Homo sapiens: one gene and its partners. The protein of the gene in region 3 interacts with the protein of the main gene of each other region in a biochemical or structural test. Each region holds a gene or a part of one and is shown on either strand. Other genes may lie near its edges.

Region 1 (7,694 bases), on a different chromosome or scaffold from region 3:
CATGAGTACAGCTGAAGTGTTCCATAAAAGAATAAAACTTTCCCTTTATGTATAGTAGTGAAAAAAGTCAGTATTTTTAGGAACTACAGAATGTTATTCCTTGGTCTTTTTTCTTGAATAAGAAAAAAAAACATAAACAAAACAAGCCACAGTATCCTCTGACACTACATTCCAGTTTATGCTGATAACCCAGAAGTGAGAATACTCTTGAATCTTGAATATCTCATGAATGGACCAGTATTCTAGAAACTCACCACTAGAGGTCAATGGGCAACAGCTATTGGGATGGTATCAGCATGCCCTACGGTGCAAGTGGAATTTCTAGGCGCCTCTATGCTACTGCAGCCACACTGTCTTTAACTCTCAGCCCACCCACACTGAGGAGGGTGCCTAGAGGTTCTATTTCCAAACCTTTGCATGTATCTTAAAAATCTCAATAAAATGAGACCTTCCACCATCCAAACAGAGCTGATATTCTCACTACCAGTCCCTCTCTAATATTCCTATTTGGCTGAAAATAAGTAGCTTCAAAAAGTTTTAAAAAAGAGATTACTTGCAGCATTAACACTTCTTTGTTGATTAACAAGTTTCCTATGGAGTTTTAAAGCTCATACTTTGTTCTTGTCCTTGTGGACACAAATTTTCTAACTGCAAATGGGACCTTTGTGTCCCACATTCAAATCCTCTCTAGTAATTTCTGCAAAGGTTGAGAAGGCTGGCATGATGGAGAGAACGGTAACCATGAGGAAAGCTTCTTGGAGTAAAGCACTCCTCTCTCCAATGCAGAGGGTAAAACTATTAACATATAAGCAAAAGAAACTTGGGCTAACTGAGACCCTTAAAGGAGTTCCCCTTTAGTCCAATAAAAGGCCAACTTCAAATCTTAACACCAGATAAGGTAGTCAAAATCATATTATATACCCAGAGAATGACTGCTTGAATGGACATTTCTTACAAGGGACCTTGGTTAGGTGCAGATTTAATTCCTAGACTGGGGTCCAGGTAGGCAGTGGAAAGAGCTAATGTTTACAGTGAGAAGTGAGGCAGCTTTGTAAGTGTCTCCACACCTTCACATTTTGTGAACGTGGACTGGAGATAACTGAAAACCATCTGCTATCCTTACCTGGGGATCCAGATTTTCCTGCAAAATCTCCAAATATTTATAAAGTGGCTTCACTTTTTGAAACGCTGTGCTGACCAAACAAAACATATGTTTAGAGTGCCTGAGGTCATAGTCCTGACAATGATAGTATTGTGTAGTTGAAATCCTCTTCATCAGGCCAAACTGTGCTTGAGCAATCAGGAGCCCAGAAAGATGGAACCCATTGGTGTTTGTATAGAAAACTAGAAAATCAAGTCAAGTGTAATGAAAAAGTAAACACGATAAAGCCTAGAGTGAGAATTTGCTCCTTTTTAGAAAAGGATGAAGGCTGGGAGCAGAGAATAGTAACATAAGTGCAGGGGAAAGATGAAAAAAAGAACAATTTTTCATTAGTAGATGGTGGGGCAATCGCATGGATGGGGACATCTGTTCTGATTTTTCTGCAACCCATGAAGGTAAAAAGTGGGGTTCAAAACATTCAAGGTATTAAAGATGGGGTAGAGTTTCTAAACTAGGTTGAGGGAGAGTTTCTAAACTAGCCCCCCAGATTTGGGGCTTGGAGCTTAAATGAAAAGTCCAGGAGAAATAAGGGCACACAGGAACCCCGGGAACACTGGTCCTCAAACAGTGCCACTGTACTTAGTTCCATGGCCAGAAGAGAAGTGCTAGGCAGGGAATGATTATTTTGCAAAAGCAAGTGCAATGTGGTCATAGCTGGCTGTGAGACATGGAGCCTCTTTCCTCATGCAAAGTTCACTGTTTTACAGTCAGAGAACCACTGCATGTGTGATTGTCAAATGCTAATGCTGTCATGGGTCCCTTCCTTCTCTGCTTGGTTCTGGAGTTCTCCAATAAAACCAATTTCCTGGGAATATTTGATGTTTTTCCTTGTCTCTTTTCAAGGTATGGCTATATATATAGAGCTATAGACATATATAGATATATATATATATATATAAAACATAGCTATTCATATTTATATACAGGCATTAATAAAGTGCAAATGTTATTGGCTATTGTAAAAATCAATCTCATTTCCTGAGGAAGTGCTAACACAGCTTATCCTATGACAATGTCAAAGGCATAGAATGCTCTATGTCACCCACTCCCTGCTGCTGTTGTTTCTGCTTATCCCCACAGCTTACAGGGAGGGGAGTGACCCCCTTGGTTTTCCAGGAAGCATCAGTTCAGGGGCAGCTTCCTGCTGCCTCTGTTCTTTGGTGAGAGGGGCAGCCTCTTTGGACATGGCCCAGCCTGCCCCAGAAGAGCTATTTGGTAGTGTTTAGGGAGCCGTCTTCAGGAATCTTCTCCTCCGAGCAGCTCCTCCCCGAGAGCCTGTCCAGATGCTCCAGCTCACTGAAGCGTTCTGCCACACACTGGGCTGTGAGACGGGCCTCTGGGTCGTGGTCCCAGCACTCAGTCAACGTCTCACACACCATCTGGATGCCCTGTAGCGGGAAAGAGATCCAAAGGGCACCATGAGTTGGTGGGCTCCGCGGAAGGCAAGGTGGCCTGCTGACCTTGTTGCTATAGTGAGTGCAAGCAGGGTCCAAAAGTGCCTGTGCATTTAACATGTGCTGACTGAGTGCCTGCTGCTGCAGGCCAGCCAGTTCCATGTGGAAAGGGTGGTGGGGGGTTTGTGCTGGTGGCAGCTGTGCTCAAAACCTACCATACTTTTTGGCTCTGGTGCTATCTGATCACAATAGGTCCTGACAGCACAATGATCCTCTGCTGGGCTTCTGGGGTACACTAACACTCCCAACACCTGAAAATTCCCCATGTAGTGGCCCTTAATATCATTTCAACACCTTTCTATTTAGAGAAGTTCTCGCTTCACAGCAAAATTGAGTGGAAAGTACAGAGAGTTTTCACAAAACCCCTTCCCCATAAAGGCACAGCCTTCTCCACCTTGACATCATGCATGCATCTATGAGGTACATTTGTTATAACTGATGAACTAACACTGACGTATCATTATCAATCAAATTCATAGTTTACATTAGGGTTCACTCTTGGTGTTGTATATTCCAGGGGTTTTGACAAATGTATAATGACATGTATCTACCATTATAGTATCATGCGGAATAGTTTCTCTGCCCCTCAAATTCCCTGCATTCCACTTATTCATCCCTCCCTCCATTCCCCTAAATTTCTGGCAGCCACTGATTTTGTACTGTCTCTGTAGTTTTTGCCTTTTCCAGAGTGTCATATAGTTGGGTCATATACACTGTTCTATTTTAACAGGGCTGATTACCCCCGTCAGAATTGTATGCAGGCATTAGCATGGTTTCATTTTCTATAGGCCACACATTTTGTAGAGTGATTCAGTAGCAGCTTCTACGAGCTGCCAAGGATGACCTCTGGGATGCTCCATTCCTCTCCAACAACATTGGGTTGAACCCTGTGAAACAGCTGCCTATGTGGGTCAGGCATGCTTAACTCTATGCCATTTCCTAGGGTTCACCCTAACCGAATCAAGCTCCCATCCAAGGAGACCATCCAGGAGATCCTGCCCAGGAAGGTGGCAAGAGTTTTCTCTCACTGGCTTAATTTTTATTTTGCATTGCAAATATTTTTGTTATCATTTCAAATCCTTTTTGGAAATAAAGCAGGCAGGAGTTAAGTAAATGGTCTGATAGGTGGAAATAGAGTGTGCTCCTCCCAATTGTAAGATCAACATTGCTAATGGGATCCCTCACACAGGTGGCTGGGAGTGGGATGGATAAATCTCAAAACTACCTGGGAGAGCTGGCACTTTTTCTACTTGTTTTCTAATACCAACAACTTTCCAAACACACCTAGGAGCCTATCTCTCCCTCCCCACCCGATGAGTTCATGATGTTAAATTAATTGCATAATTCACCTAATTGACAGTATTGACAGATGGCCCTGTTAAGAGTAGAGTGCTATTGTTGGTACACAAGTAACATTTATTTTATTCTGGCACTGTAATTACAGGCAGTAAATTAAATTAAATATTAAGCATTAACTTGAAATCAATAGGGCAACAAATCTCATTATGAGAAAAAATGTATTATGCAAATTCTTTTCAGAATTTTATCATCATGAATAATGGCATCATTACGAGAACTATACAGCAGAGGAGGCAACAGAGTTTGAAAGAAACATAACACTCCAGCACATTCTGATTTCAGAATTTATGCAAAATATTCTTACAGTTTTAGTGTCAAAGAGGATTTGCTCAAAACTCCAGAGAAGCCTGTGACCCACCACAGCCTGGTTCCCCCTCGCCAACCTCCTCGGACTTTATTAAGGTCTGTCTGCTGAAGTGGCTCTGGGCCAGGACTGGCACAGACCAGACTTCCTGCTCCATTTGTCTTCCCGATTGTGCCTGATTTGTTGTTTCTGTTTCTTATCTGAATTTGCCTTGCCCTTAGGGAAACCAACAACTTAGCCTCGGCCTTCATGGTTGAGGGAATTCATCCAAAAGAGGCAATAAAAGGTTTTAGTCAGTAGAAAGAACAGTCTTCTCAGTGAGATAGGGCCACACTGTTCTCTCTCATTCTTCACTAAGGGCTCCTTCCTGGGTGTGTCAGACATATAGCTGGTTCTGACTCACTCACAACCTATCGTTTTCTTTTTTCTCTGACCATTGCCCTCATCAAAGTGCCCCCAAACAAACAATTTGGATCAGCCTCTTTATGAGTCCAGAATGACTGCCCTGCTATGGACAGCCTTAGCTAGCATTTCTTAACAAGGAAAAATAAGAGGCCATTAGGATGTTCCCAACAGACAGATTTCTCGTTCCTTCCAGGGCATTCTCCTCTTCTTTGCTTTCCTTAATTCCAGAGTGAGGAGTCGGTCTCCTCTTTCCCACGCGTGCTCACTCAGGCCTCTCCCAAGTCTGTGAGCACAGCCTGCAAACACCTGTACACAGCCTTCTGCATGCCACAGTCACTTCTCACTACAGCTGCCTGACAAACCCTGCTTGTTTTGCATCTGCTAAGTATTTCCTTATGGAGCTGAAGATTCCCAGAAGAAAACATTTGGAATCCAGAGGGAATCAAATATAAACTCCTGACGTGAAGGCCCAGGAGTAAGTAGCAGAGGCTGCAAACAAAATGTTTTAACCCAGGACCAAGGGGGCTTGGAAAATGTGGCAAATGTCCTCCGAATGGCTATTTGTGAACTCTCAGAGTACATATCAGCTGGTTGGAGCCTATAATAATTGGGTTATCCACTGTATTGAAATTTGCTTTATAAACAAAATTTAACAGGGCCATAGAACACAATGGGACCTTCCCTCAGATTTAAGCTCAATATTCCAGAATTCTCTGCCACCTAAGAGGCAACTTGGTTGAATCTTACTGACCTTTGTAAACACTCACTCCTTACCTGGTGGTTGAGCCAGAAGCTGGGAATTTCTGGTCGCCCTCGATCTCTCAACACGTTGTCCTTCATGCTTTCGACACAGGGGTGCTCCCGCACCTTGGAACCAAATGGAGGCTCATAATCTTTTACTTCTGTGAAGAAAGCCAGCAAACACAGGGTCACTGAGAATGGCATGTGCAGCCAAAGGAAATGAGCATGGTGAGATGCCTGGCTGGGGAGCATGAAGCACTAAGTAACAAATACATACGTAATTACTCTAAGAGCAAATTTTAATAATAATGGCTAAGATAAGAAGGAAGGAGTGGTTGGGGAAGGGCTAGAGAAGTATTCAATAAATGATTGTTGAGTACTTAAAATGTGCTAGGTGTTACGCTGGGGGACACAGTGGACAACAAGATAGAGAGGGTCACGGAGCTTAGGTTTTAACACAGGCATTTTCTACAGGGGGATATTGCAGCAAAAGGGTGAAACTGGTTCTTGGGAAGTGGAAAAATCTTATGTATTACAATGGTTTGTGAGCCTCCAAAGGCCCAGAGTATACAAAGAGATTTAAAATGTGGTATTAAATTTCATGTAGGTATTGAGGCATAAAAAGGAATGAAACTCTGGCACATGCTACAACATGGATGAATCTTGAAGACATTATGCTAAGTGAAATAAGCCAGACACAAAAGGACAAATATTGTATCATTCCACTTGTATGAAGTACCTTGTACAGGTATATTCAGAGACAGTATAATGGTGGTTGTCCAGGGGGCAACCTGGGAGGAAAGGGTACGAAAAGTTATCCTTTAAGGGGTAAAGAATTTCAGTTGAGCAAATTTCAGTACAGAAAAATGAATAATGGTGATGGTTGTAGAGCACTGCGAAGGTACTTAATGCCAGTAAACTGTACACTTAAAAATGGTTAAGATGGTACATTTTATATTATGCCTATTTTGCTACAGAAAAACATCATGGAGAGTAGTGTTTAGAAAAAAAGTTGTCTACAGGCCAGGTGCTGTGGCTCATGTGTGTAATCCCAGCACTTTAGGAGGCTGAAGGAGGATATCTTGACTCCGGGAGTTTGAGACCAACCTGGGCAACATAGCGAGATCCTCTATCTATACAAAATAAAAAACAAAACAAGCAAACAAAAAAAGTTGTTTAAAAAGGCTCCTTACGATATCACTGATTTTAAAAAAGGTTGAGAAATGCTGTTTTAGTGGGAAGACAGAGGGGACAGATTAACAACATCAACAAAATTTTAAAACGATAATTTTCCTCTGATGGTATATTCAATAAAGAAAATGATAAAGGAGGAGGTAACCCTTCACCGGGGCCTCAGGCTTCAACTAAGGTCAAATTCTTTATAAAAACTTCCTTGAACATCCTTAGGGTCAATCTTGGTTAGATATCCTGGGCAGGGCTCTATTCGTGCATATACCATATTTTATTTAATATATTCACCTGCTTATTTTTCTCACCTAACTGGACTGTGAGCATTTGGGTGCAAGTTGAGTCCCTTTCTCATTCTTGTATTCTTGGTGCCAATTGCAAGGGTCTCCCATGCCAACAGGCTGTCAACAAATGCTTTGTTGAGTGAGTGAATGAATGAATGAATGAATGAATCTTAGATTCTCTCCAAAGTGGCAGTGCATAAACTCTGGCCAAACATTAAAACAAAACACCAATTTAAATGAGCAGATTAATATAGTGTAAACAGAGCACAGGACACTTAAAAAGATAGAAAACATCCCAGTACTAAAACATGCCTGGGCTGAAAGGAGAGATTGGGCTGGATTCAACACTGTTCTCCAAAGTAAGTAGGATCTTTGGCCTTTAGCTTCAAAATAATCTTATTTAATGAGTAAAACTTTCAATACATTTGCACTTCTAGGTAACGAATTGAAGAAGCTTTCATGGCAAGATGACATTTTGAAAAGGGACGGCTTGTTTTTGTTCTTTGTTCATTTGCTTTTTTCCCCTTTTCCAGAACTCTACTTGAATATTTATCTTTTTCAGCTTCACCAAATAGTAGAGCTGCCAGGATATTTTCTTTTTTATAGTTTTAAATACAGGGGAATTTGGGATGAAGGCCTCCCATCACATTAAGACAAACCACAAACTATCCTCCTGTGTGTCATGCTTTTTGCCTCAAAGGACCCAAGCATTTAATCCACATTGCTCTTGGGTGAGATCTGAATTGTGATTTGCATAGCATTTATACTCTTATTTTTTTCTTTCATTCCTTATCTTC
Region 2 (7,694 bases), on a different chromosome or scaffold from region 3:
GCGGGGCCTGGATTCCTTTCCTAGATAATTTTATAGGAAATATGAGTGGTGCCTCTTCTTTAGACACGGCTAAAGGTCCCCAGTCAATTCCTTTTCTTGTTGGATCATTTACTATAATGATCACCAACCAAATCAGCAGACATCTTTATTAGCAAATTCAGTAACAGGATAATCTTTCCAAAATTTACAAATATACAATATATTTATAGTATTACCTTCAGACAACTTCAGTGCAAAGATATACATATAGTACATTGTGATAATTATTTGTAAAAATATGAGACGGCATAAGTAAAAAAAGACACACAGGATACCTCCAACTATAGGCAAACAGGGAAAAATATATTTTTTTCATAAAGTACTGAATGTTAACTTTTTTCATCTGTTTGTAAAAAATATATGTGCAAAAGTGTGTTTCTAATTATTCCCTAAATAGCTGGTATAGCTATACTTCAGAGTCTTCTTTAACAAGATTTGCGGTGTCTTTAAAAGTGTCTTCTGTTGCAGAATAGGTTGGAGTTGGGTCTCTTCTCGAAGGAGGCTTAGGCTTAGCAGGGAGCGAAGGTGATGGAGGTGGTGTCGCAGCAACACTTTCCTTTTGCTCGTTCTCCATCTAAGAATACAATGTAACAGGAATCAGCCATTTATTCCCCCAAGGTCACCATACACGGTTTTTCATAAAGAAGACTATTTGTGGCCACTCTGCTCAGAATAATCTAAGTGTGTGTCCAATTTAACCAAGCAAATAATTTCTAAGAAAAAATGTCTGTGCTAAGAAAAATTGTTAAAAATTACCTGTGCATAGATTGGATTTTCAAAGTTGGTAGTTTGTTTAGATTTTCGTTTGAAGAGATTCCATTTTGTCACCTAAATGAAAAGGGGAAAACAAAAACCTCTCAGTAATGGAATTATTTTGTGGGTTTCTTTTCCTCCTGTCTCAGTTTTAAAATTTCTTCTTACTGAAGGGTAAAGCAATTTGGGACCTGGGACCATGTGATTCAGCCCATATGGTAAATTGTTCAATTCCTCCTATGGTCCCTGAACAGTAACTGAAACTCTGGGCTCTTTTAATCGAATGGTTTTAAACACTTCTTTGACTTCAAATTTATATATTATAGAATTTGTGCCATAGTATCTACAAGCAAATCACCTGGTTACCTCAGTACAGAGAGAACACATAAAACAGACATGCACAAGATGCATCTGGAGAAAAAGAGATTTCTGGGGCTGCCTGAAAATTGGGTGGAGATGGCAAAGCCAAACTGTAACTCTTATTCCCTAAAGTAACATTCTTTGGTCAACTCAAGAGTATCCCTTCTCCCTTCATCATTCCCTCCTGTGTCACAATAATAATAACAAAAACATCTAACATTTATTGAGTGCTTACTATGTGTCAGGAACTATTCTAAGAGTTTTACAAGTTTCTGATTTTTTTTAACAAACCCCAGAGGTAGGTACACTTATTATCCTATACTTGCTGAGTCACAGCAAGATTATACAACTAACTTGCAGGTAGAAGGGCAGGTAATGATTACTCAGGGGACCCAGAGGCCCATAAACTGGAGAACCCAAAGATAATCACCCTGGACCATGGTGCGTGGCCCACGCTTTACTGAAAAGTTGCCTGTCATGCTGACTGCCAGATAAAAACCTGGTGGGAGACAAGGGAACAGACAGCCTACTCTCAACAGGAGCTGAGGGAGCCCACAGGTTTTATGGGGTGTCTCTTACTCTGTGACAGCAGGGGACCAGCCTGTGGAGGAGTGGGGAACACAGGGCTACAGAAGTAGAAGAGGTCTTCACTTTAACCCACATTCAAGTGAGAACCTGCTTTGTACATAGTGCCCCCAAGGGGAACATGAAGACATTCAGGTCAGAGCCCTGCCTCTGGGCGCTTACAGTTAAGTGGGGCGGGCCAAAGTCTCTTAGATGTCATTGCTTCAAAATGAAATGGCTAACTTGAAGTTAAGCAATTACTAACAAGAGGAAAGGGACGGTGACTTTCATTTTTGTCTCCTTGGGGGATCCTATGCATATCAATGTAACTTTTGGAAAATGATAGAACTGAATCTTTTTTTTTTTTTTTTTGAGATGAAGTCTCACTCTGTCGCCTAGGCTGGAGTGCAGTGTCACAGTCTCGGCCCACTACAACCTCTGCCTCCCGGGTTCAAGCAATCCTCCCACCTCAGCCTCCTGAATAGCTGGGACTACAGGCATATGCCACCACACTCAGCTAATTTTTGCATTTTTAGTAGAGATGGGGTTTCACTATGTTGGCCAGGTTGGTCTTGAACTCCTGATGTCATGATCCACCCACCTCGGCCTCCCAAAGAGCTGGGATTACAGGTGTGAGCCACCGTGCCCAGCCCATGTTTTTAATTGTTAGTCTTTCAACATATTTATGGATGAAAGATACATTTGTGGGACTCTGGCATATTCAAATCAACCTAGGTGATCTCACCCAAGCGCCTCTACTGCTTTTAAAGCATGCTGGCTGTTAACTCAGTGCCCAGGAGGGAAGAAATACAGTGAGATCCCTGGACATAACATGGAAGACACATTTTAGAGGGTCTCAGCCTCACTAATGTAAAAAAGTAAGAGGAGGAACCAAGGTATTACAAAAGGGAAGAGAAAGAAAGGACTACAATTGGTGAAGATCTGCTCTCCTTTGAAAGAGACTGTCAGTTTACATTTTGTTTCTGATAACAGACATGCAGATCAGAGGTTACAGCCTCCCCACCACAGTCCCCTTCCTGCACCAGCTGGGGAAAATGTCTATTTAGTGAAGAAGATCACTAGACTAGAGATGGACTGAGAAAAAATGTTGAAAATATAAAATAAATCTGGCACTAGCTTGGGGTTGACTCAGGCTTGGAGGACCAAATATATGACATTCAAGCATCCGTGTGTCTGTGGAAAATTAATCTTCAAAATCCATTTTTAATATAGCTTAAAGAAAAAATGTTTAGTCCCTTGAAAAATCTGAAACTGAAAATTCCTTTCTAGACAATATTTATGTATGTCTGTGAGTGTATGAGTGTGTGTGTGTGTGTGTGTGTGTGTGTGTGTGTGACATGAGAAGAAGAAATAAGGGAATTTGAGAAGGTGTACAGAAGCCTTGATATAGACTCTTCTCAGCATCAATTTAGGTCAAATTTTATTTTGATTTAAATCAGCAGAACAGAAACCAATGTTTAAGGTGATAATGAGACTGCCAAGTTACCAAGATATCAATGTTTATAGACTATGAAATTTGAGAAATAAAGATTGTATAAAATGGTAAAATTTCCAACTACTCTTAGACTTTCATTTCTTTACATTACTTCACAAAATTGGTCATAGAATCTTAGAACAGAGACATTCCAGATCCTAGCGGTTCTCAACCAGGAGTGAGTGCACATGTGTTGGGGAGGGGAGGTGATTTCTGGGGTCACACTGAATTAGGGGAGACACTACTGGAATTTAGTGGACAGGGACCAGAAATACTGAAATTCCCTGAGTGCATAGGACAGTTTTGTAGCACAAAGAACTGTCCCACTCAATATGCCAATAGCGCCCCCAGTGAGAAATATTATTGAGGACTCTAGCCCCAGAAGTAAAACAGTTTGTCCAGATTCAAACAGCTATATCTGGTATAGCTGCAAATGCATTCATTAAAACTAATGATATACATTAATACAGAGTTTAATATCAAATATATTTATTGAATTTCTTCCTGCAGACCAAATAGTGTACCAATTGCAAAGGACCTGCAGGCATGTTTAAGAAGCTCCATCTAGTGGCATTTTTTTCTTTCAATCTCCAGTATTAAACACCATCCCTGACACATCGAGGGGAATAACGTTAGTTAGATGATTGGTTGGCCAATAATGAATAGATGGATGATGAATGGAAAAATTAGTGCCATCTAGTGGTAAAGATCTGTAATAGCAGGAGAGCGAAGAACAGCTTGAAAGAATAAAGATGCATGCTGTAGAGAAATCACGGCACACACAGACGGATCTTTCATCTGTATCTTTGACACCGTGAAATCTTTATTCATACTGAGTCAATTTCTCAACTTAAATGTCTCTGGTCTGAAGATACTGGATCCAGAAGTCTATTTGTTCTTCTTTGTGACATGTCCTCCTATGTTACAAGGAACATTATTCCCAACTCGATGTTAGAATGTAGCTTTATTTGGTGGAAAGTTTTTCAATCTATGACTTTTTAAAAAATTATATTTATTAACTGTCAACACATCTTGAGATCTTTGAGCCTTCCAGAATCTCCCTTGTTTGCTTAAGGTTAATAAAAACCCAGTCATCCCAAAGTTTTTCCAAATCCCACATTATTTCAGGAGTCGGCAACTGTTACCTGAGTTCCATCAGCAGCTGGTGAAGTTGGGTTTGTCTCTGGAACTATCTCAGAAGGGTTTATGGGACTTCCATAATTCTTATTATCCACATTTTCAGATACAGTCACCTGTGGACATGTTAAAGGCCTTTACCCAATTTTGAAAGAATTTAGTAGTAAATAAATTTGCTGTAAAGTTTGTACCAACTCTGGCTCTTTTTGCCATCTTGTTCTCCCACAGACATCATCAGGCACCATTTTTATTGCATGACCCAGTAGGCCAGGACTAAACATCACTCCCACCGCCCCAAAATCAAGAGCAGCAACCACTAAGTCACCTCATACCTTAATCCTGGGAGGCAAATACATCCCTCACTGGTCACACTCTCACTTATTACTAGCAATTTCTACTGTATTCTCTATACCTTCTTACTCCCACTGTTGACCAAATTTTTGGATAATCATACTCTAGTTATATACTGGAAGCCAAATCCTAGAAGAACAGCAAGAATAATTCCCCAACCTCACTGATGAACTGAGAATCCTATCTTTGGATCTTAATAATTTCTTTGAATATTAATAAATCCTATCTTCGGAAATTAAGATTTCATAGTACTACTAAAAAGAGGTTGAATTTTTGAAAAGATGAGAATGATAGAATTAATAATCTTCTACGCATTTTTCTATAACATTCATACAATTCCAAGGTTCCCTTTTAAGACCAAATTACCATGAATGCATAATAAACTACAAGGTAGACAATTCACTCCTTTTCCTATATTTTCACATTCATTACTTGTTTATTCTGAAACTTGGATATGCATTTGTATACATGGCCTCATTTTATTTTAAGTGAAGATGTCAAATGAAATGTCGTATCTCTTTTATCATGTGATTAAAGTTTTCATATCTGTTTATCAGAGGATCAGGGAAAATGCTTTCAAGATTTAAACATTTCCGATCTTAAAATCACAAAATATTTGTAAAATAAACATTTCTAGTTTCTGTATTAAAATGTGCCATATCTCGAGTTCAAAAGGAGCATTAGGTGTTAACAATGACAGTTATTCATTGTCACTAAGGCCATAGTTGTTGTGACAAAGGAGATACATGTTCGCAGTTGACAAGCAGTAAAAGTGGCGCTGGGGCTATTGATGCAGACCTTATGTAAAGTTATTCCCTTCACCTATATTCCTATTTCATCTCCCAGCTCTTCTTAAAGATGACGGACTGAATCTCAAACATGCTTTCTTTACTATTCCTTTGCACCCGTCATCCCAGCCTCTCTTCACTTTCACTTAGACTGAACCTGACACCCATCAGGCTCAGCAAATTACCTGGGCTGTACTGCTGCAAAGCTTCACAGACAGCCCCCATTACTTCAGTCAAGCCCAAATTTCATCCTCATCTGTTACCTATTTCGGCATAATTCTCATAAAAACACACATGCTCTCCCTGCTGATCAAGTCTGACTAATCTCCCAAACCTCAATCCCTTCTACAAAACAACAACTCCTTTCCTTCCTAGGCATGGTTAGTGCAGTCAGAATTCTTACACAAGAGCCGGGACCGTGCCCTGTAGCCTTTCTGTCCAAACAACTTGACCTTACTGTTTTAGCCTAGCCCTCATGTCTGCGTGCAGCGGCTGCCACTGCTTTAATACTTTTAGAGGCCCTAAAAATCACAAACTATGCTCAACTCACTCTCTACAGTTCTCATAACTTCCAAAATCTATTTTCTTTCTCCCACCTGACGCATATACTGTCTGTTCCCCAGCTCCTTCAGCTGTACTCACTCTTTGTTGAGTCTCCCACAATTACCATTGTTTCTGGCCCAGACTTCAATCCAGCCTCCCACATTACTACGGATACCACACCTGACCCCCATGACTGTATCTCTCTGATCCACCTGACATTCACCCCATTTCCCCATATTTCCTTTTTTCCTGTTCCTCACCCTGAACACACTTGGTTTACTGATAGCAGTTCCACCAGGCCTAATCGCCACTCACCAGCAAAGGCAGGCTATGCTATAGTATCTTCCACATCTATCATTGAGGCTACCGCTCTGCCCCGCTCCACTACCTCTCAGCAAGCCGAACTCATTGCCTTAAGTCAAACCCTCACTCTTGCAAAGGGACTACATGTCAGTATTTATACTGACTCTATATATGCCTTCCATATCCTGCACCACCATGCAAGAGGTTTCCTCACTACACAAGGGTCCTCTATCATTAATGCGTCTTTAATAAAAACGCTTCTCAAAGCCGCTTTACTTCCAGAGGAAGCTGGAGTCATTCACTGCAAGGGCCATCAAAAAGGCATCAGATCCCATCGCTCAGGACAATGCTTATGCTGATAAATTAGCTAAAAAAGCAGCTAGCGTTCCAACTTCTGTCCCTCACAGTCAGTTTTTCTCCTTCACATTAGTCACTCCCACCTAGTCCCCCGCTGAAACTTCCACCTATCAATCTCTTCCCACACAAGGCAAATGGTTCTTAGACCAAGGAAAATATCTCCTTCCAGCCTCACAGGCCCATTCTATTCTGTCATCATTTCATAACCTCTTCCATGTAGGTTACAAGCCACTAGCCAGTCTCTTAGAACCTCTCATTTCCTTTCCATTGTGGAAATCTATCCTCAAGGAAATCACTTCTCAGTGTTCCATCTGCTATTCTACTACTCCTCAGGAATTTCTCAGGCCCCCTCCCTTCCCTACACCTCAAGCTCGGGGTTTTTCCCCCGCCCAGGACTGGCAAATTGACTTTACTCACATGCCCCAAGTCAGGAAACTAAAATACCTCTTGGTCTGGGTAGACACTTTCACAGGATAGGAAGAGGCCTTTCCCACAGGGTCTGAGAAGTCCACTGCGGTCATTTCTTCCCTTCTGTCAGACATAATTCCTCGGTTTGGCCTTCCCACCTCTATACAGTCCGACAGTGGACCGGCCTTTACTTGTCAAGTCACCCAAGCAGTTTCTCAGGCTCTTGGTATTCAGTGGAACCTTCATACCCCTTACGGTCCTCAATCTTCAAGAAAGGTAGAATGGACTAATGGTCTTTTAAAAACACACCTCACCAAGCTCAGCCACCAACTTAAAAAGGACTGGACAATACTTTTACCACTTGCCCTTCTCAGAATTCAGGCCTGTCCTCAGAATGCTACAGGGTACAGCCATTTAAGCTCCTGTATAGACGCTCCTTTTTATTAAGCCCCAGTCTCATTCCAGACACCAGACCAACTTGGACTGCACCCCAAAAAACTTGTCATCCCTACTATCTTCTGTCTAGTCATACTCCTATTCACCGTTCTCAACTACTCATAAATGCCCTGCTCTTGTTTATACCACCGGTTTACACT
Region 3 (7,694 bases):
CACCAGTGAGGCCCCAGTGACCCCAGGACACAAGGGATCAGGGGGGACGGCTTGTGGTCTGGACCCCGACTCACCCACAGACAAGATCTCCCGGCACTTGTCACACTGGTCCTTCATCCGCAGGCAGCCCGTGGAGTTGTGGCGGATCTCCCGGCACACAGTCCGGTCATCGTCGCCTTCTGGGGACACACGAGGGAAGAAGAGTCAGTCATCCAGCCATGCAGAGATGGACTCCACTGATTCCTATTGTTATTTTTATTTATTTTTTAATTTACAGACAGGGTCTCACTCTGTTGCCCAGGCTGGAATGCAATGGTGCAATCATAGCTCACTGCAGCCTCCAACTTCCAGGCTCAGGTGACTCTCTTGCCTCAGCCTCCCGAGTAGCTGAGACTACAGGTGTGCACCACCACACCCGGCTAATTTTTTAAGTTTTTATTTTTGTAGAGACAGGGTCTCACTATCTTGGCCAGGCTGGTCTCAAACTCCTGGCCTCAAATGATCCTCCCGCCTTGGCCTCTCAAAGTGCTGGCATCACAGGCATGAGCCACCATGCCCAGCTCAGTTTTTTTCCTCTTTAAATAAGGATAATATCACCCTTGTGATATTGCTGGAGAAAAATCGAGATGACACCCGCTGAGCCCTCGGCATGGTTCTCAGCATCTAACGAGTTGCTCAAAAGGCCATGAGCTTCCACCCCTTCTCACCTCGTATGAATTCTGTTGGCGGGTGCTGGAAGGCCGGGCTATGGAAGTGGATGTCCATGGCCTGCTGAGCCTCGTGTATCATCTCAAGGAAGGGCTGGAACATGGCGTGGAAGTTCAGGGGCTCGTACGGAGAGAAGGGCATCAAGCTGCGGACGATGCGGGACTTGGGAAAGAAGAAGTGAGGCCTCCGGTGGGGCAGGCTGAAGGGCAGGTAGTGGTAGGTATCCTGGGGCTCCCGGGTGAAGAACCTGTCCTGGAAGAGCTCGTCTATGATGCTGGACGCGCGGCTGAAGTGGTCCTGCATGACATCCAGCATGTGCGTCTGCTGCCGGTCGTTCTCCAGCAGGGAGTCGATGCGGTCACCATTCATCCAGAAGTAGAAGGGCGAGCTCTGGTTCAGGAACTCCTCAAGCTGGGACAGCCAGCATGGGCACAGTTAGGAGAAGCTCACCAAGGCCACGGCCTCCTGGCCTCCCACCCCCTGGTGAGCCAGGCCAGGCCCTGCCCATGGCTGTAACAGTCACACAGCAAGTGACCAACAGCCCAGCTGGGACCAGCCCCCAGCACCCCATCTGTCAGGTCCATGCTCTTTCCTTTTATCTCCCTCCATGGGGGACAGTTTTGAGACACCTGGGAGGCCCCAAAAGTCACAAGGCCCAACATTTCAGGTTCATTCACTGTCATCTTTGGCCACCAATGATATCCACCCCCGCTCGGCTAAGGGCCAACTGATGTGACTTCAGGGATTGGAGCAATTCACTGAGTCCCAATCAAAAAAGCCCTGCAGCAGAGGACAGGAGCAACACTAATATACTACAAAATCTTACATTGGCTGGGCATAGTGGCACACATCTATAATCCCAACAATTTGGGAGGCCAAGGTAGGAGGATTACTTGAGCTTAGGAGTTTGAGACCAGCCTGGGCAACATGGCCAAACCCCATGTTTACAAAAAAAAAATACAAAAATTAGCTGGGTGTGGTGGTACGTGCCTGTAGTCCCAGCTACTTGGGAGGCTGAGGTGGGAGGATCACCTGAACCCAGGAGGTCGAAGCTGCAGTGAAACATGATCACATCACTGTACTCCAGCCTGGGTGACAGAGTGAGACCCTGTCTCAAAAAAAAAAAAAAATTCTTAAATCCTTCCACATAAGTGGACACAGGGCTCTGCCATCCCACGAAGCAGTTTATTATGTCATCCAGCTAAGCACTGCTGCATGAGTTTTCTAAGAGAAGGCAGATACCTGGCCTACATCCTTTTGATGACTCCACTCTCTCTACTCATGCCAGACATTACCAATGGAGCATGGCACTCTGGGCAAGCCAGCCAATGCTAATCAATTGCATCTGGCATGCGGAATGAAGCATATTTCACTAGGCTCCCCTCCTTCCCCACTCAGAGCCTTGGCCACTCATGTGTCCCCTTTTCACCTGGCGGCCAACCAGGCCTGAGCCACTTCTGCAGACGCGTGCGTAGAACTTCATGCAGGTCTGTTTCAGGCAGGGCTTACACTCTTCCCAGAGGGCCATCATGGTCTCATTGCACACTCCTGGGAGCTCCTTCAGCTTTGTCTCTGATTCCCTGGTCTCATTTAGGGCATCCTACAGGAAGACACAAGGCTGGCTGAGCCACACAGAGACCACAGGCTCATGCACTCAAAGAGCTGCTGGGTGCCAGGCCCTCTGCCCCAGGGCAGGCCTTCCCATAGGCTGGCCACCCAGCATGCAAGTGCCTACCCTTGCTCCAGTTCAAGCTTCCCCTCATTCGCCCACCTGGAATCCCCTTCCCACCTGGCTTAAAGAATCCACTCATCCTTCAAGATCCAACTGTTCCCTAACTCCTAGAAGCTTCCCAACTCCTGGAACCCATGTGGACACCACCTCTCTCTCTGATCACCTACTCAATGACTACCCTCTCACTGAAGCCTCATTTCCTATTCTCTGCTTCTGGTGTTTAAATTTCATCTTCCAAAGCAGGCTGCAGACTCCCTGAATCTTACCTTTCTATTGCAACCATGCCTCCTGGCGTGCAAAGGGAATGGCAGGCATTCAGCACCAAAGCCACACCAGCTATCAAAATTCTCTAACGGGCCCTTGCCACTTGACCCAATAATTCTGTAAGAATCTGTCTCAGGCCAGGTGCGGCAGCTGACACCTGTAATCCCAGCACTTTGGGAGGCCGAGGCAGGCATATTACTTGGGGTCAGGAGTTTGAGACCAGCCTGGCTAACATGGTGAAACTCCATCTCTACTAAAAATACAAAAATTAGCTGGTGTGGTGGTGCACACCTGCACTCCCAGCTACTTGGGATGCTGAGGCAGGAGAATCGCTTGAACCTGGGAGGCGGAGGTTGTAGTGAACCAAGATCAAACCACTGCACTCCAGCCTGGGTGACAGAGCAAGACTCTGTCTCAAAAAAACAAAACAAAACAAAACAAAACAAAACAAAGACTCTATCTCAAAGGAATCCCCTGACAAAGAAAAAGATACTTAAAAATATTTGAAACAGTATTAGCTTATGGCAAAAAAAAAAAAATCAGAACCAACCCAGATGCTTAAAAGAGACAGATTAAACAAACTATGGTTCATATAAAGGGTAGATGGTACATCATTACAAAGGATGTTTATAGTCCATTTTGAATATTATATGTTAAAAATTCATAATTTTAAATATAGCCACTGTCAAAAAAGCATAGAAGAAAATAATAGGAAAAATAGATCAAATGTTAACAGTGACTTGTCCTTGGGCAAAAGGATTATGGAAAAACTTTTCCTTTTCTACTTTTCTATATTAAAGTCTCTATGAATGAGTGTGTTAGTCTTCAAAAAAAAAAAAATAGCCTATCCACACCCCAGAGTTAGGTGAGGTCTTTGTCCTGCTCCATCATCCCCTGTCCCCTGCTGGGCAAGGACAACCCACCTCCCACTGAGCCAAGACACAAGCGCCACCCCTGCTACCTACTTCCTTGCCTTCTGGCTCACCTACTCCTCAACTAAGAAGTAGCAGGCTCTTTTCTCCAAATGTATGTGATGTGCTTTATTATAAAACCAGAATTGTTGAATGTCAAACTCCAGTGATAACCACAAAAATGTGAGAACAAGTCATGCCCCTTCCCCAGGAGCTATTTGAGGATTCTCATAGAATGGTGAGAACTGATACTAAGGCCAAGAAAGGGCATGAAACTTGAAAAAAAGGTAGAGCCACATCCAGGCCAGCAATCCCTGAAGTGGCTCCTATGGAGCTGTGCTCAAAGCGGCCAGGAAAAAAAAACAAAAACAAAAATGAATTCCCTGGTCAGTTTGGAAAACTCTGGGTTTCATGGAGTTACACAGGTTTCTTTACGGCAGAACTTCTCAGAGCCTTTGAAATGCTTTTAACATGCACGATGGATCATGAAGCTTGCAGGTAGCTACATCTTAGCATCTGAAGTAGGGCGACCGTGAGAGGAGGTTTGTAGGATACTCTTAAGGAGACTTGATTTCTTAAATAAGTTGTTCATTGAATTATAGTGTTTTAGTTTTGTTGAATCATTAAGCACAGGCTAGACCTGCTATATCCACTACTGGGCTTAAGATGTTTCTTTATGAAGTAGTCCAGAACTCTAGCAAGACGTGGGGTGCTGTGTGCCTGCCTTAACCCTAACCATATCACCCCTATTAGATAAGCTTCCTGAAGGTTGGACGCCACGCCTGTCTGGGCCCCTGCCGCCACCCCATCCAGAGCCTGCTTGGAACTAGCATGTGATCAGGGCTTAGAAACATCTATTGAAATGAATCTGGGCATTAGGCCCTGGGCCAGGCTCATAACAAAACCAGATCCAAGATCTCACTCCCTGATGCTTTCAGAAGCAAATGAACCTTCCCTGCTTCTTAATTGCAGCCTCAGCATCAGCTGACACAGCCTGGGAGGACTGCGGGTCACCATGGCAACCCAGCAGGGCACCGCGCAGTGACCCCCTCCCTCCCCTCCAGTGGGATGGTCAAGGCAGGGAGGCGGTAGCGGCTCCTCCTGACCTCTTTCTTCTTCTTGGCTTCTTCTAGGTTGCTGAGCAGTGTCTTGCGCTCTTCGTTTGTTTTTTCTATGAGAGTCTTTATCTGTTTCACCCCGTTGACAGCATTTTGAATTTCCTTATTGACGTACTTACTTCCCTGATTGGACATTTCTGCAAGAGAAGTGCAAGAGGCAGAATGAGGCGAGAGGAAGAGGTGGCCTCAGGACCCTGGAATGAGCTGGATGGCCAGAAAGGCCCGTTCAGTTCAGGGGCTGTCAAGGCTGGGACCCCCACTCCTGCCAGCAGGCAGCAGCATGGCCCCAGCCTTGCCCTGGCACAGGCTCCCATCACAGGCTCCTTGCTGACTGCACCCTACTGCTTAGAAATGCAGACCATGGGAGCCGGCACACCCAGAGTTATGCCCAGCCACTGCCATGTGCCCCTGGAGAATGAGCTGGGTGCAGAAGAAACTTGGCAAGGAAAAAAAAAAACCCAGAAGTGTCAGCTTTGCAGCATCAAAATATAAAATATTGTTATTTTGGACACAAATCTTTCTAGAGTTCAGTTTAAACAGATATGTGTATTTCTTTGTTCCAATGCAGTGCCAGGCGACAGGAATAAGAAGATGAGTAAATGAGTAAGGTATAGCACTGGTGACAAATGCAGCGAAACACTGTGTCACCTAAGTGCTACTTCACTGGTGTTTATCCCATGCCAAGCACTGCGCCAAACACTTCATGTGCAGTTTACATAATGCTCCAGCCCCCCGCCGTGCCCACTTCGCAGAGGGAGACATGGGAAGTGTGATATGATAAAGGGTCAAAGTGTTCATCAGGTAGGAGGAGTATGTTCTGGAGGTCTAACATACAGGTGGTGCTTATAGTTAATAACACCATATCATAACTGGAAATTTGCTAAGAAAGTAGATTTTAAGTCTTCCCACCGTCCCACCATAAAAAGTGGTCATCATTTCAATGTATGTGCATTTCAAAACATCACGTCATATACCTTAAATATACACAATTTTTATTTGTTAATTATATCTCAATAAAATGGGGGGTGGGGGGAGTGTCATGAGATCAAGATAGTGGCCCAAAGTCACCCAGCTGAGAAGAGGTGAAACAGACTCACACCCATGTCTGATCTGGGTTTTTAACAATGATCCTGCAGAAACCGTCAGCTCACAGGAGGGATAAGCTCTGGGCACTCCAAAGGGGAGAGGGATAAGAGCTCCGGTGGTCCAGACACAGCTTCGTGGAGGAGGCCTGGGAGCTGGGCTAAGGGGCCTGGGAGGGGAAGAGCTGAATGAAATGCAACAGCCGAAAGTGCTTGGGAAATGCCTGCAAATGCCGGCAGTCTGATGCACGCAGAGCCTGAACCAGGGGCCTCGGAGCTGAGGCTCAGAGTGGGCCCAGACACAGGCACCCAGACCCAGTGCACAAGATAAAAACGGTCTGTAACACTGGGGCCTGATAGAGAGGCACTGAGCAGAATTAGCTACCCTGCCCTCTGACCTCATCACCCTGTGGCCAGAGGAACATCATGCTTGGTCTACTCACCCTGGAGCTCATTGTCTGAGACCGTCTGGTCCCCCAGGACCTGCCCACTCTCCCAGGTCAGCAGCAGCCCCACAAACAGCAGCAGAGTCTTCATCATGCCTCCAATTCTGGAGTCTTTGCACGCCTCTGCAGAGAACAGGAGACCATCATGGGAACAGCTAGACAGCCTGCTGGCGTCCCGCCCACCTGCTGCCTGCAGCAGCTCCCCAGGGCCTCACTGCCCTCAGCTGTCCCCACAGCAGGCACTGCTGCACTTTTATTCCTGAGGAAATGGGGGGAAATGACCAGACTTGCCATGGACACCTCGAATGAAAGCGAAGGCAGGAGGTGCAGGGAGGGAGGGACTGCAGGACAGCAATGTTGAGTGGAAGAAACAAGAACCCTGGCATCGGAGGAACCAGGCTCTTGTCCAAGCCACATCCTCCCCGACAATCAGCGAGGCACACAGGCTTTCTGCATCCTGGCCTCCTTGTCCAGAGTGGTATCGATCATGTCAGACACTGAAAATACCCCCCTTAGGTCATGCATCCGTCCCTCCCCATGCCACCTCCACAGAGGGACTGCATCCCAGAGACCAGCCACGTCCTCTGCAATGTGCACCTAAACCTTCACCCCAGCAGACGCTCCCCATTCACCACAGCGCTGCAGCCCCCAGGGAGTCTCAGCACCACCTGAACTTGACTTTCAAGAGCCGGAGGCAACAGCAGCCAGCCCTTCACACCGAATCCATCTGCATCCCTAGTGGGAGACTTGGGCCGGGCTGCCTGTGCATTCAGGGGTGGAAGTAGTGGAAGCCAGGAAGGACAATTCCCTTCGGAGAGTAGAGAGGGTTCGCAGTGGCCCGAGGAGCAGGCTTCCCAGAGAAAGTCCCTTTGGAAGGATGAGTCCTCTTGCTCTGCCAGGCCCTCCACACTGCCCATCCCCTCTAAGCCGACAGCAGGCTGCCCTGCCAGTGTTCCTGCCACCACTGGGCTGGCTGCCCTGAGCCACGGGGCACAGGCCATAGCCCCGGTCTTACACAATGGACCCTTTCCCAGAAGCTGAGGCTGTTGCATAAAACAGAAACCCCTCCCCCTGCACTCCACCCCCACCATGCCCCTCCCAAGAACTGCTTATCTGAGCTCACCCATTTGCCATCACAGAACCAACAGGACGATGGGGTTCCCCTTCCTGAAATGGTTCACATCCAAAGCCCGCTCAGCCCAGCAGGCCCATCTGGACACTCAGTAGCACATTAACAAGGAGTGCCTCTCATGAGAAGTAATCAGGCGCAAAGAGCCAGGGAGCAGCGTGGGAGAAGAGATGGGGTCAGCGCCTTCCCCAGAGATGGGGTAGGGGGCGGAGACCGGGCTCACCAGGAAGGCTGTGGTCTCACGGGCTCTGCCCCAGCTGCCCACTGAGCCCTGAAATGCCTCCAGCAGGAACAGAGCCTTTGT
Region 4 (7,748 bases), on a different chromosome or scaffold from region 3:
GGGCTTAATGTGTTGGAGCCAGAGGCAACCATTTCCTAACTGCTGGTCATGCACATCTCCTTTCAGCTCTGCACTGAGTGACATCACAACGACAGCTTGAAATCAGCCACCATGGGAATATTTACACCAGGGAAACTGGCAAACACGACCCATCAGGACTTCTTCCTCCAGAGAGCTGGTTGTTAACCTCTTGCAGCATGCTGCAGGGGTTTGCTTACATTTGATGTTTTTTTCCGGAGCATTCACACATGTTCAGATTTGGTTTGTATCTGCTCTAAGGGTACTTGAGACTCCCTCATTCATATCCTTCTCCTCCCTTCTTTCCAAGTGGAGCAAAACCCCTCTTCTGCAAAGTCATCTCTGAGCACCTCCTCCCCAGTTGGCCAGAAGCCATGCCCTAGGCCAGGACGGGGACCCCCACCAGGTGTACCTGCTCCTCAGCACTTTTGATTACGACGAGCTGGGCCCCCACTTCTTTGCAGGCGGTGATGGAGTCGTGCCAGTTCCGCTGGGAGTTAGACATGAAGTAACAGTTTCCTTGGAAGAATGTCCATTCCCAGGGACAGGGGTGGCACAGGCGTTCTGTTGGGGGAGGCTGGTCAGGGCTGGGCTTAGATTAGGTTGTCCATATTCCTGTACCTGCCCAGCCTTCAAGGTCTTGAGAGTCAGAGTCCTTCCTTGACTGTCCACGCCGGGTAGACCATTCCCCTCCCCACTTCCCGAGACCCTCCCCCATCCCCATGAGAACCCAGGAGTCCTGGCCCCATCTCCTCCAGACTAGGAGAAGTTGGGGCTTTAGAACTCAGAACAGAAGGCAGGAGACTGGCTTAACTGAGTGCCTGTTGTGTACCTGGCCCACTGTGAACACTGAGGGCAATGATCACAGTTACCCTGTGTTCTCATTTCACAGATGAGGAAACTTGCTCAGGCAGGGTCAGTGACTCAAGCAAACTCACACCACACAACGACCATCTCAGGCCCAAGAAGCCCTGGTTCCAGATACTCACCCACTGCAGCCTTCAGCTGGGTCAGCTCCTGGTAGATCTCCTGCTGCTTAGATTTCTCTGGAAGCTCACCCACTGCAGCCTTCAGCCGGGTCAGCTCCTGGTAGATCTCCTGCTGCTTAGATTTCTCTGGAAGCTCACCCACTGCAGCCTTCAGCCGGGTCAGCTCCTGGTAGATCTCCTGCTGCTTAGATTTCTCTGGAAGCTCACCCACTGCAGCCTTCAGCCGAGTCAGCTCCTGGTAGATCTCCTGCATCTTAGATTTCTCTGGAAGCTCACCCACTGCAGCCTTCAGCCAGGTCAGCTCCTGGTAGATCTCCTGCAGCTTAGATTTCTCTGGAAGCTCACCCACTGCAGCCTTCAGCCGGGTCAGCTCCTGGTAGATCTCCTGCAGCTTAGATTTCTCTGGAAGCTCACCCACTGCAGCCTTCAGCTGGGTCAGCTCCTGGTAGATCTCCTGCAGCTTGGATTTCTCTGAGAGCTCACCCACTGCAGCTTTAAGCTGGGTCAGGTTCTGGTAGATCGCGTCTTGCCTGGATTGTTCCTGACTTATGGAGCTGGGGACCTTGGACACTGGGCCAAGAAAAAAAAGGAACTGCAATTATTAAACACCTACTGTGTGCCAAGCCTTGAACTGAGCCCCATAGGGACATCATTTGTGAGAGCCAAGGTCTTGGTTAATCCCCTTTGAAGATGAAGAAAACTGACACCTGGAGAAGGCAGCACAGAAGGCCAAGGAGAGCCAGATTCTTCCTGTCCTCCTCCTCCTCCCTCTCCTGTCCTGCCCTAGAGTGGGGAGGGGCTGTGGGAGAGGCCCCTACAGACCCCCAGGGACAACATCTTGGCTCTCAGTCCCACCTCCCTCCCAGATCTGGCAGCCCCAGGCTGTGTCCACAGCCAAAAGCCAGGCGTGGGGACCCCAGACCCTCAGAACCTGCCCCTGACCTTGGACAAGGAGCCCAGCCAAGAGCGTGAAGGAGAGGAGTTGCAGCACCAGGGGACCATGGCCAAGACACCCTGAGAGAGGATACATGCGTCAGCCTGCCAGTGTCCCCACCGGAGCCTGGCCCAGGGAGAGCCTGGTCTAAATCCCTCAGCACCCCAGGACCCAGGAACCCCAGCCCCAGCCCCCTCCACTCCAACACCTGGGAATCCAGGCCCTAGCTCTAACCTCCCCAGGACCCAGGGACCCCGTCCCCAGCCTCCCCTTCCCCAGGTCCCAGGAACCAGGTACCTGCTTCCACCTCCCCAGGACCCAGGAATCCAGGCCCCAGCCTCTACATTCCCAGGTCCCTGGAACCCAGGCCCCCAGCTCCCACCTCCCCAGGACCCAGGGACCCAGGACCCAGCCTCCCCTTCCCCAGGTCCCAGTAACCCAGGTACCTGCTCCCACCTCCCCAAGACCCAAGAATCTGGGTCCCAGCCCCTACATCCCCAGGTCCCAGGAACCCAGGCCCAAGTCCCCACCTCCCCATGACCCAGGAGTCCAGGCCCAGGCCCCCACCTCTCCAGGACCCAGGAGTCTAGGCCCCTGACCCCACCTCCCCAGGACCCAGGAACCCAGGCTTCAACTTCTACCTCCCCAGAACCCAGGAGTCTTGGCCCCAGCCTCCACCTTCCCAGGAACCAGGAATTCAGGCCCCAAACTCAACCTCCTCAGGTCCCAGGAGTCCAGGCCCCTAGCCCCACATCCCCAGGACCCAAGAGTCCAGGCCCCAGCGTCCAGCTCCTCAGGACCCAGGAGTCCAGGAGTCTCTCGTCTCTCCTCCCAAACTGCTAAGTCCTCTCTACCTGCTAAGCTCTTGTATCCTCGAGTCTGTCGGAATCCAAGGCCTCTCAGCTGTTCCTCCTCTGAATGGATAGACGTGAAATCAGAGCCTGGGCAGGCTGAGGCCATGGCTGGCCATCCCTTCCCCCTTCCCAGAATCCCAGCGTCCCAACCCAGCCTCACCCAGGAGGCCCAGCTGCTGCAGTCTTGGTTCCTTGGAGTCACTCATGTCACCCCACTCTCCCCCAGTGTCCAGAACTCCTGGGGGCCACAGCTTTTATTTCCCACCCTGTGATCTTTACTTCCTAAATCTAGTCTCCCACAGAAAGAGAAACAGGAAGTTGGGTAGGGATCTGTCATCCAAAAGACTAGTGGAAAGCATCAGAGCATGAGATGGGCCGGATCTTTCAAGAATTTCAGGGAGGCAGTGGGGGATGGTCTGGGGTTGACAGGGAGAAGGACTCATCCACTCATGGATGGCTGAGCAGTGGGATGCTTTTAATGAAATCTGATAAATTGTAAGAGAAAGCTACTGTGTTACACCCCCTCCACTAGGGCAAGGGTAGGCAGGTAGCACCCCCAGTTCCTGGAAGCACTGTCCCCTGTGACCTCCTGGCTTTCCTGCTTTGAGCTGCTGCTGTCCTCATTTTTGGGAATTCCTGCTGACTTTGGGAGTTGGGGCAGAATCATAATTGCTTGTTTATTTAATGCCTAGGGTAGTCAGGTACTTTTCCAACAGCTTTATAAACTCATTCATTTAATGTTCCTACCCTTCAGTAGATCATATGACCTCCATTATACAGATGAGGAAACTGAGGAGGCACTGCAAGTTTAGCTAACTGGCCCAAGGTCACACAGCTGGTAGATGGTGGGGCTGAGACTTGAACCCAGTCTGCCTCCACAGTGCATGCTGTTAACCAAAGAGTGAAATAGTATCAAAGAGGAAAGAAAAGATCCATAGCAGCTTTATTTAGAATGATCTGAAATTGGAACAACCCCGTGTCCACCAGCAGGTGAATGATAAAAAATATAATGGCATATTCAAAGATTGGAATACTATACAGCAATGAAAAAGCAAAGTACTAGTACATTTAATAACATAGATAAATCTCACAAAACAGTAAAAGGACCCAGACAGAGTGAGTACACACTGTAAGATTTGATTTTGTGTGAATTTTGAGAACAGGCAGAACTAACCTTTGAAGGAGACTCAGAATGGGAATTATCAGGAAGGAGCAGGTGGAGATTGACAACGGGGTTTCTGTATGCTGGAAATGTTCTATATTTTGATCATAGAGATGTGCATTTACCACATGTGTGTTAAATCTCAGTTTAAAGATGGAAAATACATACATGTATCATAATCAAATAGTGGTTTTCGACCTGATCTTTACTTTGTATTCTTTTTTAAAATGTTTTAATTTTAGAATAATTTTGGGTTTATAGCAAAGTTGCAAATGTAGGAAAGAGATTTCCCATATGTAAATCCCTCACCTAGGGATCCCTAATGTGAACCCAGTTTCTCCTAATGGTAACATTTCACATGGTAATGAGGTAGGAAACTGGAAGAACTTGTTTTCTGGCCACAACCCTGCAGACCCATACAGAATCTGGTCCAGATGAGATGATGTGAAGAAACCAGCAGGAACCAGCAGATGGCAACAAAAGCAATCCCTGGCTGCCTCATTGCTCGTGGGCATAAGATACTCCCTCCAGTGCCATGACTGTTTACCGATGCCATGGCAATGACCTAGAAGTTCCCACCTGTTTCCATGGAAACAACCTGGACATCTTCGCCCTTTTCCTTAAAACTTCTAAAGAACCTGCTCCTCAATTTGCATTGACCCACCCCTTAACTGACGTATAACTGAAAGTGAGTTGACATGAGTATAACTACAGCTGCCAAGAGCTTGTATGTTGTTGACTCTGGGTGCACTGCCTATGAGTTAGCCCTGCTTCACAAGGAGCAGTATCATTACATAAAAAATATCTGTCTAAGGCCAGGTATGGTGGCTCACGCCTGTAATCCTAACACTTTGGGAGGCTGAGGTGGGCGGATCACAGGGTCAGGAGTTCGAGACCCTCCTGGCTACATGGTGAAACCCCATCTCTTTTAAAAATACAAAAAAAATTAGCCAGGCATGGCACGTGTCTGTAGTCCCAACTACTCAGGGGGCTGAGGCGGAAGAATTGCTTGAACCTGGGAGGCAGAGGTTGCAGTGAGCTGAGACTGTGACAATGCACTCCAGCTTGGGCGAGAGAGTGAGACTCCATCTCAAAAACAAACAAACAAAACCGGTGGCTCACGCCTGTAATCCCAGCACTTTGGGAGGCTGAGGCGGGCAGATCACCTGAGGTCAGGAGTTCGAGACCAGCCTGAGCAACATGGTAAAACCCTGTCTCTACTAAAAATACAAAATTAGCCAGGCATGGTGGCTGATGCCTGTAATCCCAGCTACTCGGGAGGCTGAGGCAGGAGAATCACTTGAACCTGGAAGGCAGAGGTTGCAGTGAGCCGAGACTGCAATACTGCACTCCAGCCTGGGCGACAGAGTGAGACTCCATGTCAAAAACAAACAAACAAACAAACAAAAGGTGGCTCACGCTTGTAATCCCAGCACTTTGGGAGGCCAAGGCAGGCAGATCACCTGAGGTTGGGAGTTCAAGACCAGTCTGACCAACATGGAGAAACCCTGTCTCTACTAAAAATACAAAATTAGCCAGGCATGGTGGCTGATGCCCATAATCCCAGCTACTCAGGAGGCTGAGGCAGGAGAATCGCTTGAACCTGGGAGGCAGAGGTTGCGGTGAGCTAAGATCGTGCCATTGCCTTCCAGCCTGGGCAACAAGAGTGAAACTCTGTCTCAAAAAAAAAAAAAATCTCTGTCTGACATCACTGGCTCACCCTTGAATTCTTTCCAGAGCGAAGCCAAGAACCCTCCCCAGCTAAGCCCCAATTTTGGGGTTCACCTGTCCTGCAACATTTGGTGACCTTGAAGGAACAAAGACAGTGAGCAAGCGGCAGTGACTGGTGCAGCACTGCCGATCTGCCGATGGTGATCGCCAGTGAGACAGTGAGACAGTGGGGATCACTGAAGAATTAGTAAGACAGCAGAGACAGTGGCAATTGGTGATTGGCAGAGAGGTGAAACAGCAAGGGATGGCAAGACAGCAAGACGGCAACTGGTAAGGTGGCAAGAGGCGCCCGTCGGTGATAGGTCAGTGAGACAGAGAGGTGGTGATCAGAGAGTGGTGGAGTGGTGGCAAAGAAAGAAAGACAGAGAGGTGGTATATTAGTCTGTTTTCACGCTGCTTGATGAAGACGTACCTGAAACTGGGCAATTTGTAAGAAAAAGAGGTGCCTTTTGGCCGTAACTGCCATCTTCCAGTAATTTGCCAAAATGATGAACGCAAAGGGGAAGAGGAGAGGCACCCAATATATGTTCTCTAGGCCTTTTAGAAAGCATGGAGTTGTTCCTTTGGCCACGTATATGCGAATTTGTAAGAAAGGTGATATTGTAGACATCAAGGGAATGGGTACTGTTCAAAAAGGAATGGACCACAAGGGTTACCGTGGCAAAACTGGAAGAGTCTACAATGTTACCCAGCATGCTGTTGGCATTGTTGTAAACAAACAAGGGCAAGATTCATGCCGAGAGAATTAATGTGTGCATTGAGCGCATTAAGCATGCTAAGAGCTGAGATAGCTTCCTGAAATGTGTGAAGGAAAATAATCAGAAACAGAAAGAAGCCAAAGAGAAAGGTACCTGGGTTCAACTGAAGCACCAGCCTGCTCCACCCAGAGAAGCATGCTTTGTGAGAACCAATGGGAAGGAGGCTGAGCTGCTGGAAACTCTTCCCTATGAATTCATGGCATCAGAGGTGTTAAAAAAATAAAAGACCTCTGGATTGTGAAAAAAAAAAAAAAAAGAAAAGAAAAGAAAAGAAAGAAAGAAAGAAAAAGAGGTTTAATGGGCGGTTCCACATGGCTAGGGAGGCCTCACAATCAGGTGGAAGGCAAAAGGTAAGTCTTACATGGCAGCAGACCAGAGCGAATGAGACAGCCAAGCAAAAGGGGTTTCCCCTTATAAAACCATCGGGTCTCATGAGACTGACTCACTACCACGAAAACAGTGTGGAGGAAACTGCACCCATGATTCAATTATCTCCCACTGGGTTCCTCCCACAACACGAGGGAATTATGGGAGCTACGATTCAAGGTGAGATTTGGGTAGGGACACACCCAAACGATATCAGATGGTGATCAGCGGTCAGCAGGATGATGATTGGTGAGACGGAGAGGCAGCAGTTGACGAGAGACAGCAAGACAGCCATCAGCACTACGGTAATCAAAGCTGCAGAGCTGTAACACTAACCAAGGACTCTTTGAAGAACCATCATCTTCCCTAGCAGGCAATGGAGCTGAGCAGATGAACATTCGGCTGTAGTGCCATGTGATGTGGGACCAGCCACTCTGACCAGCAGGCCAATAGGCTACTGGTCCCCTGTGACAGCTGAGCTGGCCCAAGCTGGGAAACCTGGGCACCTGGCCTTGGTGGAGAAGACCTTCACCCAGGCCCTAAGTTGGAGACCAGTCAGTGCCATTTTGGCTCCTGGGGACAGGTGAGTGTCCCCTCTGCCCCCGCCTCCACAGTATTGTGTGAGCCAGGAAATAAGACTTTTGGCTAGATAGTCAATTCAAAGTCCCCTGTAGCACATCTGACCAACTACGTTCTTTTTTTTTTTTCTTTTTTTGAGGCGGAGTCTTGCTCTGTCGCCCAGGCTGGAGTGCAGTGGCGCGATCTCGGCTCACTGCAAGCTCCGCCTCCCGGGTTCACACCATTCTCCTGCCTCAGCCTCCCCAGTAACTAGGACTACAGGCGCCTGCCACCACGCCTGGCTAATTTTTTGTATTTTCAGTAGAGACGGGGTTTCACCGTGTTAGCCAGGATGGTCTCGATCTCCTGACCTGGTGA

The links.
Region 1: the proteins of CLU (region 3) and TGFBR2 form a complex in vitro, tested with the Homo sapiens proteins (one study listed by BioGRID).
Region 2: the proteins of CLU (region 3) and LRP2 form a complex in vitro, tested with the Homo sapiens proteins (3 studies listed by BioGRID).
Region 4: the proteins of CLU (region 3) and CD209 form a complex in vitro, tested with the Homo sapiens proteins (one study listed by BioGRID).

What each region holds. Positions count from the first base shown.
Region 1 is NC_000003.12:30,686,276-30,693,969, reverse strand, and holds part of TGFBR2 (TGF-beta receptor type-2 isoform B precursor), read right to left. Parts: intron 5,587-7,694; coding exon 5,459-5,586; intron 2,551-5,458; coding exon 2,371-2,550; 3' UTR 1-2,370. UniProt on the Homo sapiens protein: Transmembrane serine/threonine kinase forming with the TGF-beta type I serine/threonine kinase receptor, TGFBR1, the non-promiscuous receptor for the TGF-beta cytokines TGFB1, TGFB2 and TGFB3.
Region 2 is NC_000002.12:169,128,218-169,135,911, forward strand, and holds part of LRP2 (low-density lipoprotein receptor-related protein 2 precursor), read right to left. Parts: intron 4,465-7,694; coding exon 4,357-4,464; intron 868-4,356; coding exon 796-867; intron 614-795; coding exon 446-613; 3' UTR 1-445. UniProt on the Homo sapiens protein: Multiligand endocytic receptor. Acts together with CUBN to mediate endocytosis of high-density lipoproteins. Mediates receptor-mediated uptake of polybasic drugs such as aprotinin, aminoglycosides and polymyxin B.
Region 3 is NC_000008.11:27,604,217-27,611,910, forward strand, and holds part of CLU (clusterin isoform 1 preproprotein), read right to left. Parts: intron 7,536-7,694; exon of another isoform or gene 7,385-7,535; intron 7,156-7,384; exon of another isoform or gene 6,930-7,155; intron 6,536-6,929; exon of another isoform or gene 6,385-6,535; 5' UTR 6,356-6,384; coding exon 6,259-6,355; intron 4,871-6,258; coding exon 4,722-4,870; intron 2,309-4,721; coding exon 2,138-2,308; intron 1,120-2,137; coding exon 708-1,119; intron 180-707; coding exon 75-179; intron 1-74.
Region 4 is NC_000019.10:7,744,511-7,752,258, forward strand, and holds the start of CD209 (CD209 antigen), read right to left. Parts: upstream 3,025-7,748; 5' UTR 3,002-3,024; coding exon 2,956-3,001; exon of another isoform or gene 2,856-2,955; coding exon 2,796-2,855; intron 2,022-2,795; coding exon 1,950-2,021; intron 1,578-1,949; coding exon 1,008-1,577; intron 583-1,007; coding exon 431-582; intron 1-430.